Regions from separate parts of the Homo sapiens genome. Here region 1 is linked to region 2. A link means that fine-mapping ties the variant in region 2 to the expression of a gene that starts in the linked region. Tissue or cell type: tibial nerve. Region 2 holds a variant in brackets; the other region holds the start of a gene. All regions are shown on one strand. Distances are between the middles of the regions.

Region 1 (8,183 bases), 21 kb before region 2:
ATGCTTAAATGAAAATCTATGTAAAGCATTTAGAACTGTTTCCAGAACAAGCAACAACTCAATAACTGTTAGACTTTTGTTTGTTGAGACACGGTCTTGCTCTGTTGCCCAGGCTGGAGTGCAATGGTGTATTTATACCTCACTGCAGCCTGGCACTTGTAGGCTCAAGCAAACCTCCTGCCCCAGCCTCCTGAATAGCTGGGACCACAGGAGTGCACCAGCATGATCAGCTAATTTTTAAATTTTTTTTTGTAGAGTAGGAATGTCACCTTGTTGCCCAGGCTGGTCTCAAACTCCTAGCATCATGGGAACTTCCCACCTCAGCCTTCCAAAGTTCTGGAATGACAGGTGTGAGCCATGCACTCAGCCAGATGTTATAATTATATTACTAGTATTTAACAAAAATATTTTAATTAAGTAAAATGATACAATTATTGCTATTTTGCAGGATGATTTAAAGATTAGGTCACATTTTAGCATATCTGATATTGGAGTGGTATTTATAATTCATAATTTTTATATGGTAGCATTTATAATTGGTAGCATTTAAAAATCATCTTATTAATATAGAAAATAGTAGGGTATCACACAATCCATGAGGTCTTACATTAAGTAGAATACTGTATACACAGCAGGTCTAGGGCAATTCTAGGAATCTAATTGACACTTAAATACATTTTAATTCCTCAAAGTACCATGGGGAAAGAGCACTGAAATAACAACATATTTTTTAAACAAATTACTTCTTACTTTGATTTTTAAAAATGGGAAGCTGGCCGGGCCCAGTGGCTCACGCCTGTGATCCCAGCACTTTGGGAGGCCGAGGCAGGTGGATCTCTAGGTCAGGAGTTCAGGACCAGCCTGGCCAACATAGTGAAACTCTGTCTCTACTAAAACTACAAAAATTAGCTGGGTGCGGTGGCAGGCACCTGTAATCCCAGCTACTCGGGAGGCTGAGGCAGGATAATCACTTGAACCTTGGCAGCAGAGGTTGCAGTGAGCTGAGATCACGCCACTGCACTCCAGCATAGGCGACAGAGTGAGACTCTGTCGCAAAACGAAAAAACAAACAAACAAACAAAAAGAAACGTGAAGCTAAAGGAAACTCATGATTGAGATGAACAGGTATGGCTCATTTTAGTCAACACTTAGATTTACAGAATATATGCAAATCAGACTTTCCAATGATTAATATTAGTATTTAAGACTGATAAATTTTCAAAAGGGCAGTTAAAGGTTATCTCTTATTGTTTTCTACCTTCAGAAAGGCTTTTGCTTGAAAGGTGGGAGGAAAAGCTTCAGTGAGATTAAGTTCTACTATTCCTATTTTAAATCTCTCATCTTGCTCAGGCAGAACAGGTAAACATAAAGTTTTTAAGTATGGAAGGGTCCTGAGAGATAGTGCAAAATGTTTGCTACATAACATATTCGAGTTATGTTTGATGAATAAATGGATTGATAGAATACAGTTGGGGAGCTCAATATTTTTAAATACAACTTCTATAAACCAATATTTTTGTGATAGTAATAATATTTGCTATTTGTTATTTTGATAAGACTACAACTATAATGAAATGATTAATCTATCATTGTTTGCCTATATGTAATGAATCTATACATAAGAAAAACATATATACATAATAAAGTATATACATAAAATCTGCAAGCACAGATAAAAAGATTCCCTTTTTACTTCTGAAGAAGCTAAAAGTTCAAACCCTCACAATAATAATGATAAAAAATAGTGAGAAATTATTTTTATCTGTTCAAGAGTCATATTTCTCTTCCCAAAATTTATTCCATTAATAATAAATTTTTACTAGAAATTTTATAAATGCTCACTTCAGAAATCAAAGGTAAGAAAAAGGAACAAAAAACTTTAAAATACAAATGCTCAGAAGTTACAAATTTTATCCTATTTTGTGCATAGTATTGCCTAACACCAGACCATAGTATGTTTGTGTGTATGTGCAAGCAAACTGATTTGTTTTTCCTCACTGGCTGTAACAAAATGCATCTTCACATATCAACATACTTCTCCACCTATTGCCACCTTCAATGGCCACATACCATTCTATGGGTTCTTGTTAACATAAATGCTGGGGAAAAAAAGTGCATGTATCTCTATTTTCTGAAGGTATTTTAATACAATGGAATTGATGGGTAAAGGGCATATACATTTTTAAAATGTGGTAATTATCTCCAAATTATCCACTTGAAAAGTCATCAGCAACTTAAACTTCAAGCAGCAGTGTAAGTGCCACTGCTCTTCATTCTCACAAACACTGTGGATAGAACACAGTCTCACTCCTCTTTTAACTTATCTTATGAGAAACACTAAGGATTTTTTCCTATGTACATAAGTAACTTGTGAATCTGCAAAAAGTGCTTTGCTCACTTCTAGAGTTCTTTTCTTGTGGATTTGATTGGAAAGAATTCCCTGTAAAATAAAGATGTGCTTTTTATCTGTATATATATAACTGATATATATATATAACACATTATATTAGTAATATATACAATTTCTTATACATATAATCAGTAATATGTATTATATATAATAAAGAATAAATTCCCTGTAGGATGAAGATACACTTTTCATCTGAATATATATTTTTATATATTAGTAAAAATATATATAGGAAATATTTTTCGAGTGTGTTATCTTTTGTTAATTTTTTTCTGATACACAGGGGATTTTAATTTTTAGTTTGCTAAATCAACTTTCAGAATGCCTGCTTGCGAGGTCATTCTTACGAAGGCCTTTGTTAACATAAAATGTACCTGTATAAATAAGTCTTTGCGTTTTCTTCTGGTACTTTTTCTCATTTTGCATGTGTAAAAATTTCAGTCTGAATTCCATCAGGAACCCATTTTTGCGACATAAAGTTTCATTAGTTTTCTTCACACAGCAGGCATTTTATTAATAACTCATCTTTTCCTACTCATCTGAAACGTTACCATTATCCATCCCTATGTATATATCTTACATATATTTCAGTGTTTTTGGATTTCCTGTTCTGTTCCATTTATTTATCTGTGTTTTCAGCTGTTAGTAAATAATTAATTGTGGGAATTAATAGCACATTTTGATATCTAGAGGAGCAAGTCTTTTCACTCCATTATAAACATTTTTAAATGTCATCACAATGGTAAGATAGATAGCAAGTGTCATGCAAAAATGATAAAACCTTGATATCTTCATTCAGTTTATGTAAAACTGATAAACATGGAAACAGTTCATATTTTGAGAAAACTGAGTCTTCCCATTCAAGGAACCCACCTCGCGCTTCCCAGTGTCCCTCTAAGAAGCTCCAGTAAAGAACCTGTCTACCTAGGTGGATTCGGATGTAAAACCGACACAGGGTTTTATCTGAGAACTCTTCGCCTACTGAAAAAGGCTCATGGTATTTTTGACAGGGGAATGAGTTCTCATTAGGCACCTCCCTATCATGTATATGGCCCCATGTTTTAAACGTGGATATGCCTAACTTTGTGAGTTAAATCACTCAAATTTTCCACCAAGCGCGACGGACGGGGAATTGCCAGCGACGGAAAGCAGCTGAGGCTCCATTTGGCTCCGCTGCTCCGAGGGTGCCCGGCGCCCTCCAAGGTCCCCGCCCCAGGGGCTGCCGGGCTGCAGGGAAGCCGGGCCTGCGGCCCCCTCCCACCGCGGGCTGAGTCCCCGAGCTACCTGTCTTTTCTGTCGCGGGCGTCCAAGTCCCGGAACCTGCGCGTCAGGCAGCGCTCCACCTCCGCGGCGTCGCCCTTGATGGCAGCCCTGTGGATCTTCCGCAGTTCCCAGTCCCGAATGTCGTAACCCGGACCCGCATACTCTTGGTCCATGGAGCTCAGGAGCGCCTGGCCCAGGCGTCTCCCGAAGCTGAAGAGCTTCCTCATGGTGGCGACTTCTCAGACGCCCACCACCCGCTCCTGAGCCGCGGCGGCTCCTCGTGGCCTTTCCACCCCCACTCCGCCCCAAATCCGCGATCTCCCCCGCAACCCGCGATCCCCCCCGCAACCCGCGATCCACCCCCAAATCCAAGATCCACCCCCAAACCCGCAATGTAGCTCAGAATCCGCGATCCAGCCCGGTCCACCACAGCCTTCAGCAGCGACACTCGCAGACTCCGACCTCTCAGACCGAGTGAGCCCAGCTAAGCCGTTAGGCGCGCGCCTGAACCTCAGCGCTCCGAACTCTCAGACCGAGTGAGTCCCCGCGATGCCAGTTAGGCGCGCGCCTACAACTCAGCGCCAGCCGGGACTCCGGAAGCCGCTCCCAAGCCCTCGTGGCCGGCAGGGGGCACCTGCAGCACGGGCGCACGCGTCGCTGGCTTGCGGGTTCTCCTGGGCTCCCGCGGGACGTCCCGGAATCCCAGGAGTGCATCCCTTCCCGCCTGAGGGCCTGCCTGGCCCTGACTCCCGACCCGCTCCTCCTCCGAAGAGAGATCGGGGCCGCTGACAGGGGCCCTCCGCAGCCACCGGGGATGGGACTGGGGGGTCGGTTCCTGTCCCGGTGCAGCCGCCGCCGGGTAGACCGCCTGGCTTGGCCGCAGCCAGGGCGACATGTAGCCCCGGTTCTGCCAGGCTGGGAGCGCCAGCCATCTTGGGAGTTGCCAGGCAGCTGTCGCCAGCAGGTAGAGGGCGCCTGCAGCTTGGGCGCCCAGGTGGTGGAGCACGGCCTAGGCGGCCTCTGGATCGCGAGTGCACCTGGCCTGAGAGCCCGCCAGGCCCTGCCCCTGCTCGGCTCCTCGTCTGCTGAAGCTCGGGACCTCTAGCCAGTGGCCCTCTGCAGCCACGGGGAATGGGGCTGAGAGCCGGTTCCCGCTGCAGGGCAGACCACCTAGCTCAGCCGCAGCCACAGGGACATCTGGCCCCGGTTCTGAGATGTGGGGAGTGCTGGCGGGCTCGGGGGTTGCCTGGAGGCTGCTGCCTGCACACAGAAGGCGGATGCAGCTTGGGTGCCCAGGCGGGCTGGAGGTGCATGGCCTGGTCGGCCTCGGGATCGCCAGCGCGCCCAGCCTGAGGGCCCCCAGGCCGTGCCTCCCGCCCATTCCTCCACCGGAGGGGGATCGGGGTCGCTGGCATGGGCACTTGGCAGTCACTCCGGATGGGGTTGAGCAGGGGTTCTCAGTTTTCGCCCCTGTGCAGCCGCCGCCGGGCAGAATGCCTGGCTTGGCCGCAGCCACTGCTACACCTAGCGGGTCGGGCGGGCCGGGGGGTGAAAGCGCTGGGAGGCGGGTGCCTTCTCGCCCTGTGGCGCCTCTGGGCCCCACGGCTTGTCGGCCTCCGGCGCGCAGGGCTCCCCAGCATCCTGGGCGCCGGCCCGCTGCCTGCACAAAGTCAACTCAGACAGGATGAACTTCGGTTGCCTTGTCTGGCTGGGCTGCCAGGCGGGGCAGCTGACCTGCTGATGGGGTGACTTTCTTCATCTTCTTGCCCACAGGACAGCGGGCTGGGAAGCCAGGGGCCGCCGGGACCTGGGGCTGGAAACCACATCTGCCCACAGCCGCAGCCTCCTGCACCTGTCATCCTGGCGGCGCCCTGACGTCGGAGAAGCAGCAGGCGCGGAGCTCCTGCAGCGGGCACCGCTGCAGCAACCCGACCCGGCGCAGGCGGCAGTGGAAGGCGGCCTGCTAGCACGGCTCCCGCGGCCCCAGGACCAGGGGTGCGGCCAGCACCGCCCTCACTCCCCGCGTCTCGTGGATATTGCCCTCCCTGGAGGCGGCTGGACCTAAGCGAGGCTCGCAGCGATCGGCCCCGCGAAGACTCGCATGCAGGGCTCAGGATCCCGCATTCTGGCGCCGCGGCACCGCACCTTTCAGCAGCCCTGCTCCTCTTCTTGTTGGTAAACTTTTGTCACTCTGCCATGAAAAGCATCCAGGCGTCCTTGATTTCGACATTGCGTGCACGCTCAGCCGAGCTCATCAGACGGGCGGTTGTCCCCAGAGCCCGCGGGTAGCTTGTTCCCGGGCGGCGGCTCCTGCTGGATGCAGCTCCTTGTGGGCCTACCAGGCTTGGTGGAGCCACAGCAGACCTGTGGAGAGGAAGAGTAAGGCGGGCTCTGCAGGGCAGTGGGCCGGGACCATGAGAGAGGCGGGTCAGTCTGGGCTCCAAGCTCAGCCTCTCGGATTCCCCGGGACCCACGGCTTATAATGCGCTTAAATCCCACGCCTCGCCCGAGAGACAGCACGTCACCGTCACCGTCACCGCCTAGCGCCCCTGACCCGCTCCCACTCCGCTGCAGCGGAGGGTGTGTGAGGGAGAGGGACGCAGGGAGGGAAAAGCGTTGGGAGGGCAAACATCTTTTCATAAGCTTTTCCCCTTCTATATGCCATCTCTGATGGGAGCCTCTTTAGATCTTTCGTCCATTTACTAATTGGGTTGTTCGATTTCTTATTGTTGAGTTGTAAGTGGTTTTTAATGGTCTGGATGCCAGACAGGTGTTTTGCAAATATTTTCTCCGTCTGTGGCTTGTTTCTCCATTCTCTTATTTCCTTTCCCAGAGCAAAAGTTTTTAATTGTAACGACTTCATACCAATATCTTCTTTCATGGTAGAAATTTGTCTTTTATGTACTTTACTGTTGTATCTACAAAGTAATTGCCAAACCCAAAGTTACCTAAATATCCCTTTTGTTATTTTACAGAAGTTTTACAGCTTTTGGATTTAAATTTAGGTCTAAAAATTGAATTCATAAAAGTAGAGAGTATAATGATGCTTACCAGAGGCTGTGTTGCTGGGGAGAAAAATGGGAAGTTGTTCACAGATGCAAAGATTCAGTTAAACCGGAGAAATGCGTTTTGAAATCTATTGCACAGCAGGATGACTATAGTCAATAATAATGTACTGTATATTTAAATAACAAAAAGTAAATTTCAAATATCTAACCACAAAAAATAAAATTGAGGTGATGGGTATTTTTTATTTTATTTATTTATTTGTTTATTTATTTATTTTTTTGAGACAGAGTCTCGCTCTTTCGCCCAGGCCGGACTGCAGTGGCAGGGTCTCGGCTCACTGCAAGCTCCGCCTCCTGGGTTCACGCCATGAGGTGATGGATATTTTATCCTCGATGTAGTCATTCCTCATTTTATACACATATCCAAGCATCACATTGTACCCCATAAATGTATGCAATTGTGGTTTGACAATTTAAAATATTATTAACTTAAAAATGTGTCGTTCGAGTTAATTTTTGAGGAGCAAGGTCTGTGTCTCAATTCTTTTTTTTTTTGCATATATGTATATATACATACACGCAATGTATTCATCACTGTTTTTGAAAAAGCTACCCTTTCTCCCTTGAATTGCCTTTACCTTTTTGTAAAAGATCAATTGACTGTGTTTGTGCACTCTTATTTCTGAGTTCTCTATTCTGTTCCGTTGATCACTTTGCAAGTCCTTGAACTTTGTTCCTCCCCCACAATATTGTTGGCTATTCTTGTTAGTTTGTCTTTCTATATAAACTTTAGAATTAGTTTGTCAATTTCCACACAATAATTTATTCATGTTTTCACGAGAGTTGTAATGAATTTGTAAATCACACTGAAGAGAACTGACATCTTAACAACACTGGGTCTTATTTTGTGAATACAGATGTCCCTTCATTTATTTAGATCTTTAATCCCTTTCAACAGATTTTATAGTTTTTCTCACATAGACCCTGCCCATATTTTGCTAGATTGTGTCTATTTCATTTTCTTGATGCTAATGAAAATGGTATTGGGCTTTTAATTTCAAATTCTCGTTGTTCATTGCTGGATGTAGGACAGCAATTGATTTTGTATATTAACCTTATACCGTGCAACCTTGCTATAATCCAGAAGGGTTTTTGGCTGATGCTTTGAGATTCTCTACATAGAAAATCAAGTTATCAGCAAGCAAAGGGCATTTTAATGCTCCCTTTCCAATCTGTATACCTTTTATTTTATTTTCTTGTCTTATTGCATTAGCTAGGATTTTAGTATGATGTTGAATAGGAGCAGTGAGAGGGGATAACATTTCCTTGCTTCTTTTGTGTAAAACATCCCATTTTTCACATTATGTATGATATTGTCTGTAGGATGTTCTTTTGGTATATGTTCTTTATCAGTTGAGGAATTTCCCTTCTATTTCTAATTTGCTGAGAGTTTTAACCATGAATGGGCTTTGGATTCCGTAAAATGCTTTCTTGATCTATTA
Region 2 (8,183 bases):
TTTCAACATGTTGGTTAGGCTGGTCTCCGATTCCTGATCTTGTGATCTGTCCGCCTCGGCCTCCCAAAGTGCTGGGATTACAGGCGTGAGCCACCATGCCCGGCACCATTTTATTTTGTTTTGAGACAGGGCCTCGTTCTGTGACCCAGGCTGGAGTGCGATGGCATGATCACAGCTCACTGCAGCCTCGACCTGTTGTGCTCAAGCAATCATCCCTCCTCAGCCCCCCAAGTAGCTGGGACTACAGTCATGTGACACCACACCCAGCTAATTTTTTTTCTTTTTTTTTTTTTTTTTTTTTTTTTGTAGAAATTGGTTTTTGCCACGTTGCCTAGGGCTCAACTGTTCCTCTTTCCTCAGCTACCCAAAGTGCTGGGATTACAGGTGTGAGCCACTGAGCCTGACCCCAGTTACTCATTTTTCTATCTGGCTTAGTTTCTGTTTCTTTCTTTCCTTCTTTGGTTTACTATTCCTTAAGTTATGTGAACATATAAAGGAAAAAAAATGTATCTTAAGTCAAATTCGTGGCTTTGGGTGGAAGAAGAGGGAAGAAAGAAAATGTATTTTTGGCCAGACGTGGTGGCTCATGCCTGTAATCCCAGCACTTTGGGAGGCCAAGGTGGGCAGATCATGAGGTCAGGACTTTCAGACCAGCCTGGCCAATATGGTGAAACCCCATCTCTACTAAAAATACAAAAATTAGCCTGGCATGGTGGCATGCGCCTGTAGTCCCAGCTACTCGGGAAGCTGAGGCAGAAGACTTGCTTGAACCTGGAAAGCAGATGTTGCAGTGAGCTGAGATTGTGCCACTGCACTCCAGCCTGGGCGACAGAGTGAGATTCTGTTTCAAAAAAAAAAAAGTATTGTTTTATTATACATTTAAAGAAGAAAGTGTTCATAGCCATTGATTTTTCCCTACATGGTAATATATTCGTGGCACCTGGGTCACGTGGAATTATGGGAAGAGAGTCCTTTTCCCTTCTCCTAGGCTGGAGTGCAGTGGCACCATCTTGGCTCACTGAAAGCTCCGCTTCCCAGGTTCACACCATTCTCCTGCCTCAGCTGAGTAGCTGGGACTACAGGTGCCCATTACTACGCCCGGCTGATTTTTTGTATTTTTAGTAGAGGCGGGATTTCACCGTGTTAGCCAGGATGGTCTCGATCTCCTGACCTCGTGATCTGCCCACCTCGGCCTCCCAAAGTGCTGAGATTACAGGTGTGAGCCACCACACCCGGCCAGTCAGATCTGCATTCCCCACTTCCACTCGCTTCTCCGTTGTTACACGCCTTTGACTTTTGAGACTCATGCCACCATGCAACGTGACTCCACTGATGTCCATCATAGTCCTCTCCCTTCCTGTAGCCCTGGGCTTCTTGTCACTGCTCCCCATGGGCAGTCTGATAATTCTTGTAAAGTGACTCATGGTTCCTCGACTCTTTTGACCCAATAACTTTTCTCTCCACTCCACTGCAAGGTGTGACATCAAGATGCAAGATATGAAATGACTGGTCATACCTTGCAACTTGCTACACTTTATCATAAAAATCTTAAGCACCTGTCCACAGTGCCATATATTTTAACTGTCATATGCTTGCACTTCCTGAAACACTTTCCCAATACTTGGGGACCTCTATTAATGGTTTTGTCAAATTTTTACCCAGCCTAAAGAAAATAATTAAAATACATTCAGTGTAGCCTGAGTGTACTGTGTTTATAAAGTCAGCAATAGTGTACATTAATGTCCTAGGCCTTCATATTTACTCACCACTCACACACTGACTCACCCAGAGCAACTTCCAGTCCTGCAAGCTCCATTCATGGTAAGTGTCCTACATAGGTGTACCATTTTTTGTCTTTTCTACCATATTTTTACTACACCTTTTCTCTGTTTAGATATGTTTGGATATACAAACACTTACCATTGTAATACAATTGCCGGCAGTATTCCATATAGTAACATGTTATGCAGGCATATGGCCTAGGAGCTACAGGATATACCATATAGCGTAGGTGTGTAGTAGGCTTTATCATCTATGTTTGCGGAAGTGCACTCTGTGGTTCACACAGTGATGAAATTGCCTAACGACACATGTCTCGGAATGTATTACTGTCATTAAGAGATGCATGGCTTCATATATTTTTTACTCTGTTCTTATGCTTCTCTCTGTAGAACTCCAATGGCACAGATGTGTCATTGTATTGTTACACAGATCCTTAAGGCTATGCTCATTTTTCTTCAAACGTTTTTCCTCTCTGTTGCTTATATTGAATACTTTTTATTGATCTATCTTTAAGTTCATGGACTTTTTCCTTTGTCATTTCTATTCTGCTGTTGAGATCATCTTGTGAATTTTTAATTTCAGTGTTTTTATTTTTAGTTCTGAAGTGTAACTGTCTTTTCACTTGCAAGTTGAGATTTTCCTTGTTCTTTACATGCTGAACCATTTTGGATTATATCCTGAATATTTTGGATATTATCTTATGAGACTCTGGGTTTTGTTTAAAACGTCAGGACAATGTCTTTTGCTGTTGTTTTCAATGGCAATCGGCTAGGTCAGATTCAATATGCAAATTCCTCCAGTGGGCTGTAGTTCTATTGTGGTTCAGAGCCATGTGGTACAAGCACACAGAGAAAAAGAGCAGTGAAGAATCACTCTGAACTCCTGGAACCATAGATTCTCAGGTAAGAGAGAAGAGTTTCTTCCTTCAGAGTTGTAGGTGCTTCTTGTTGGTAGCTGTTGCTCTTTGCCCAGCTGCAACCACTGAATCACCAGCACAGTATTGCTTAGGTTATAAAGAAAGGAAAGCAGAAATATAGGAGGGAATTCATCCTCCTCTTTCTCACCTGTAGGGGCTCATTTTCCTTCCCCTCAGATCAGAAAGTGAGAGATCTTCGGGAATTCTTTTTGTCTGTAACCAGGATGTATTTCGTTTCTTTAAGCCTCCTCTGACTGGCCAGTTTTGCATGTTGCTTGTTTTCAGTTTTCAAAGTAAGAAAAATCCTATGATTCTCCTGATGCTTTATAAGTCTATGCTTTCAGATTAATGCGAAAGATTATTTAAAAACAAGCTTTCGGTAAAAATGAAGGGCATCCAAAGAAGCCTGCTTTCCACTTGGCTTCTGGCCATCTTTCCTTTCTGCGGGGGTTCAAGAGCTTGGAGGCATTGGATCTGGTATCAGAGCGGTCACCTTCCCCACTGATGGGGAAGCCCAGAGGCCTTAGGAATAAACGAAGCCCGTACTGAGGAAAGGGAAGCTGAGAGGACCGAGGAAACACCGACTTTACACGCCTGTGGACTGCAGGAACCATTTATGGCACGAGCGGGTCTTTACTTATTTATTTTTATTTTTAGATTTTACTTTAAGTTCTGGGATACATGTGCTGAACATGCAGGTTTGTTATATACACGGGTATACATGTGCCATGGTGGTTTGCTGCACCTATCAACCCGTCATCTAGGTTTTAAGCCCCACATGCATTAGGTATTTGTGCTAATGCTCTCCCTCCCCTTTTCCGCACCCCCTGACAGGCCCTGGTGTGTGATGTTCCCAGGAGTGGGAGTCTCTAAGGGGTGAAAGGAGAGAGAAAACACGCTGGGCTAGCACTCTGCTGAGTTCTGCACTGAGTTAGTGCCTAACTTTGTGCTGTCTGCAGCTGTCTCCCCTACTCCTGCCCCAGGGTTCACTTCCTAGAACAGAGCCCCGGGGAACCCGGGAGCTGTGGAAAGCCAGGTCTCCCTTGTGGTTCGGGAAACACAGAAATTCAGCTGACCAAGAGACGAAGAGAAGTAAAGCCAGCGCACGGAGGTAAGAAAGTGAACATAACTTCAGAGCGCTATCATCAGGCCTGGTGAGGCATGCTTGGATCTTGACACAAAAATCCCTCTTCGACTTGATCTGGCTCTAGTATGGATCTTTCACTTTAGCCCAAAGTGCCTCCTTGAACTCTCAAATGCATTCTGAGCTGAGCACGATGGTGATTTGGGGTCAATCATGATATTCCCCGTGGGGGATTTTCTCTCTCGGAGCGCAGACCTCGTGATGACCCCTGTGACCCACCTCCTAGAGCTGGGGGCTCCGGGGAATGCCTGACGTGCCTCAGGACAGAACAGGTGTGGTCCACCACCATTCGTGCTAACCATGGAAACAGGGTACATGGGGTATAGCTCAAGGGTGATGTGCAATTTTATCAGAAAATAAATGCTATTTATTCTAACACTGAAAACTGAATTAGGTCCTCATGCTTCTTTTCTTCTTTTTTTTTTTTTTTTTTTCCAGACTAGGTCTCACTCTGTCGTCCAGGCTGGAGTGTAGTGGCATAATCATGGCTCACTGCAGCCTCAACCTCCCTGGCTCAAGCCATCCTCCCGTCTCTCCTCATGTTTCTTATGTCTGATTGACAGGGCAATAAAAGCACATATCTGGCACCTCTCCTTGTCTGGGAGGACTGGCCACAGAGTCATTTTGCAGAAGTTGGAGAGGAGT[G/A]CACTAGATGGGGCTGTTGGCTTGCATTATACAATTCACACTGCAGGGGGTAGAGAATTGAATTTCACATTTGAGAAATGGGAAAGGAGGAAATAAAAAGATGGAATGCCCTAATCTTTCTGAAAATCCAAAAAAGGCCCAAGGAAAGCTAGTTCAATTATTCCTACCATGACAAACTATGATATGGTCAGACATGCGCACTCTGGCGGGGTGTTCCTAGCCTGGGCTGCCCAAGAGGTGGCAGCTGTTCTAGGACAGATGGAGTGTGGGCCCCTTTCCTGTAGTGAGCTGGGATCACTTAGGAATGACCATCAGCCCAGAGCCGTGGGGCTTATTAGATGCAGGGGTGAGTGGGGCTTGCAGGAAATGGCCCACCATCAGTGCTCTGATGTCCGAATGCCACTCTCGTCACCTCGAGATTAACATTTAGAGGGAGACCATCCTGTGTGGCCTATTGGTGAGACAGGGACTCAGAGGAACACAGGAACCACCCACACCCTCGCCCTGCCGTGGCTACCAGCTGCCCTGGCACACCTGGTTCCCTTTGAGTTCGCCATTCTCGTTGCCACATCCCATCCTTTTCCAGACACTTCTATTTTTCTCACACCTGGAAGTGACACCTGCTGGCAGTCTTCGGAATTTTCCAGAGAGTTGGCAACTTGGGGCTCATTTGTTTCTGCTCATTTTTATTTAGTTTTTCAGATGGGCTGTGCTGCGGGCAACACATGATAGTAGCTCATCAAAGAGAGGCTGTTTTTGGGAAGTGGAGCAGCCACCGCTGATTTTGGAGCTGGGGTAGCTGCCGCTGCCACAGCCACTGCAGCGGCCTAAGGAGTCAGCTTGGGAAGGTAGTGGTCACCAAGCTCAGAGCTGTGCTTGGAACTGACAATGGATAAAAGTGTGCTGGTACAGAAAGCCAGGCCCGCTGAGCAGGCTGAGCGCGGTGATGATGTGGCTGCAGCCGGGAAGGCAGCCATGCCACAGGGGCATGCGCCCCCAGCTGAAGACAGCAATCTGCCCTCTGCCGCCTACAAGAATACGGTGGGGCCCACTGTTCTTCCTGGATTCTCATCTCCAGCACTGAGCAGAGAACAGGAGGAATGAGAAGCAGCAGATGGGCAAAGAGTACCATGGAAGACAGAGGCAGAGCTGCTGGACATCTGCAATGAGGTTCCGGAGCTGTTGGACAAGTCTCTTATTCCCCATGCTACACAACCTGAAAGCAAGGCGTTCTCCTTGAAAATGAAAGGAGATTGTTTCGGGTATCTTTCTGGGGTGGCGTCTGGAGACAATAAACAAACCACACTGTTGAACTCCCAGCAGGCTTACCAGGAAACATCTGAAATTAGTAAGAAAGATATGCAGCCTACACACCCAATTCGACTGGGCCTGGCACTTAATTTCTCAGTCTTTTGCTACGGGATTCTAAACTCTCCTGAAAAGGCCTGCAGCCTGGCAAACGTGGCATTTGATGAAGCAATTGCTGAGTTGGATACACTGAATGAAGAGTCTTATAAAGACAGCACTCCCACCATGCAGTGACTTCGGGACAATCTCACTCTGGGGACATCGGGAAACCAGGGAGATGCAGGAGATGCTGGGGAGGGAGAGAACTGTGTCTGCCATGCCTCACAATCTGTTCAGTGTCACCCTGTACCATCCACGTAAATCCCTTTGTGTGATTAAAAAAAAAAAAGAATTGTACATTGTCTTGCGATTTTTCACAGCCTCAGCCTAGCAAGAATGGTTCGTGGGATAAACAGCTGGCACTTGTATCTAAAACCTAGATTGGTTGCATAAACACCATGGCATTCTGAAGTTTTGGTTTTGATTGACATTGGCAAGATTACTGTGTGTTTAATTTTCTTAAAGCTGAGCACTGTGGTGATGGGTTTTGTAATTCAGCATAATTCTTACTGATAAGAAAAATAGACCTGAATGTTATGTAACTCTTTGGAAAGTTTAATCCAATATTAAAATAGTCACTGAAATACAATTTCATTGTAAAGTTGTACAGAAAGTTACAGAGGTTATGTCGTGATGCTGGGATGTGGAGTGAGACACCATCATTTGGCATTCAAGTTTAATGGTAATTCACAGTGATGCTGCCTGTTCAGAGCTTATAGACACTGGACCTGTTTGGGCTATTGCCACTCAAAAGTTCATGACCACAAATGTCCACAGCGTCTTCCTCTGAGGAAATGCAAATCCTGAAGCTGAAATTCCTTGTGACAGATAACTGGCTGTGACACCTTGAAAAGTTCTGGTGCTCATATGACACACCTGACTAAACCCCCCTTCCTACAGCAATAGGAATATGTTACTGATTTGAAACTTGTGCCTCAATAATGGAATAGTTTTTCATTGTTAACACTGAGCTAGTGCTGTAAATGCTGTCTGTTTTATGAATGCTCTTTTCTGTTTCCTGGCTAATATCTCCTTCTTTTTTTTTTTTTTGGTGTGAGGAATTTAATAAGATAATGCATACAAAGTGCTCAGAACCCCAGCAGATACACGGCATTCACTGAGTGTTAGCCAGTCTCATTATAGCACAGATGTCCCTTCCCCCACATGCCTTTGCCCCACATTCCTGGATAATACCTTTAAGAATAATGTTCTGAGTCAGGCATGGTGGTGTGTGCCTGTGGTTCCAAATACTTGGGAGGCTGAGGCAGGAGGATCACCTGAGCCCGGGAGTTTAAGGCCATAGTGTCCTGTGGCTGCCCCTGTGAATAGCCACTGCACTCCCACATGGGCAACATAGCAAGACCTTGACTCCAACAAAACAGAAGAATGTTCTGTAGAGATTGCCTTTCACTTCAGGAGTGCTCAGTTTTCATGTTCTTCCTAGATTGGGGCTTTTATTTATTATTATATTATGTTTTATTTTATTTACTTATTCATTAATTAATTAGTTAATTTTGAGACAGGGTCTCCCTCTGCGGCCCAGGCTGGAGTGCGGTGGCACAATCTTGGCTCACTGCAACCTCTGCCTCCTGGGTTCAAGCAATTCTCCCGCCTCAACCTCCTGAGTAGCTGGAATTACAGGCACGTGACACCAAAGGCCACCTAATTTTTGTATTTTTAGTAGAGATGGGGATTTATCTTTTTTTTTTTTTTTTTTTGAGATGGAGTCTTGCTCTGTCGCCCAGGCTGGAGTGCAGTGGCGAGATCTCGGCTCACTGCAAGCTCCGCCTCCCGGGTTCAGGCCATTCTCCTGCCTCAGCCTCCTGAGTAGCTGGGATTACAGGTGCGTGCCACCATGCCCAGCTAATATTTTGTATTTATAATAGAGATGGGGTTTCACTATGTTGGTCAGGCTGGTCTTGAACTCCTGACCTCGTGATCTTCCCCGTCTTGGCCTCCCAAAGTGCTGGGATTACAGGCATGAGTCACTGTGCCTGGCCTTTTGTTCACTTTTTTTTTTTTTTGAGACAGAGTCTCTGTCACCCAGGCTGGAGTGCAGTGGTGCAATCTCGGCTCACTGCAAGCTCCACCTCCCAGGTTTACGCCATTCTCCTGCCTCAGCCTCCCGAGTAGCTGGGACTACAGGCGCCCACCACCAAGCCTGGATAATTTTTTTTTTTTTTTTTTTTTTTTTTTTTTGTATTTTTAGTAGAGATGGTGTTTCACTGTGTTAACCAGGATAGTCTCGATCTCCTGACCTCGTGATCTGCCCGCCTCGGCCTCCCAAAG

Evidence for each region. PIP is the estimated chance that this variant, and not a neighbour inherited with it, causes the effect.
Region 1: FAM201A starts here. The variant in region 2 is fine-mapped to the expression of FAM201A in tibial nerve (GTEx, PIP above 0.99). The same link has a PIP of 0.9 or more in esophagus muscle, fetal neocortex, gastroesophageal junction, left ventricle and lung.

What each region holds. Positions count from the first base shown.
Region 1 is chr9:38,616,386-38,624,568 of GRCh38, forward strand. It overlaps FAM201A (family with sequence similarity 201 member A), which reads left to right and starts at 4,703. Exons shown (of 2, transcript NR_027294.1): 1 at 4,703-4,980; 2 at 5,447-6,899. ANKRD18A (ankyrin repeat domain 18A) reads right to left here and starts at 4,211. Exons shown (of 16, transcript NM_147195.4): 1 at 3,695-4,211. The coding sequence starts at 3,900. RefSeq lists enhancers at 4,857-4,976, 5,629-5,838.
Region 2 is chr9:38,637,670-38,645,852 of GRCh38, forward strand. It overlaps the pseudogene YWHABP1. Among named protein-coding and RNA genes, the nearest start is that of FAM201A, 21 kb to the left of the region's middle. RefSeq lists enhancers at 4,895-5,396, 5,397-5,896. The variant G/A (reference allele first, on the strand shown) is at 4,488.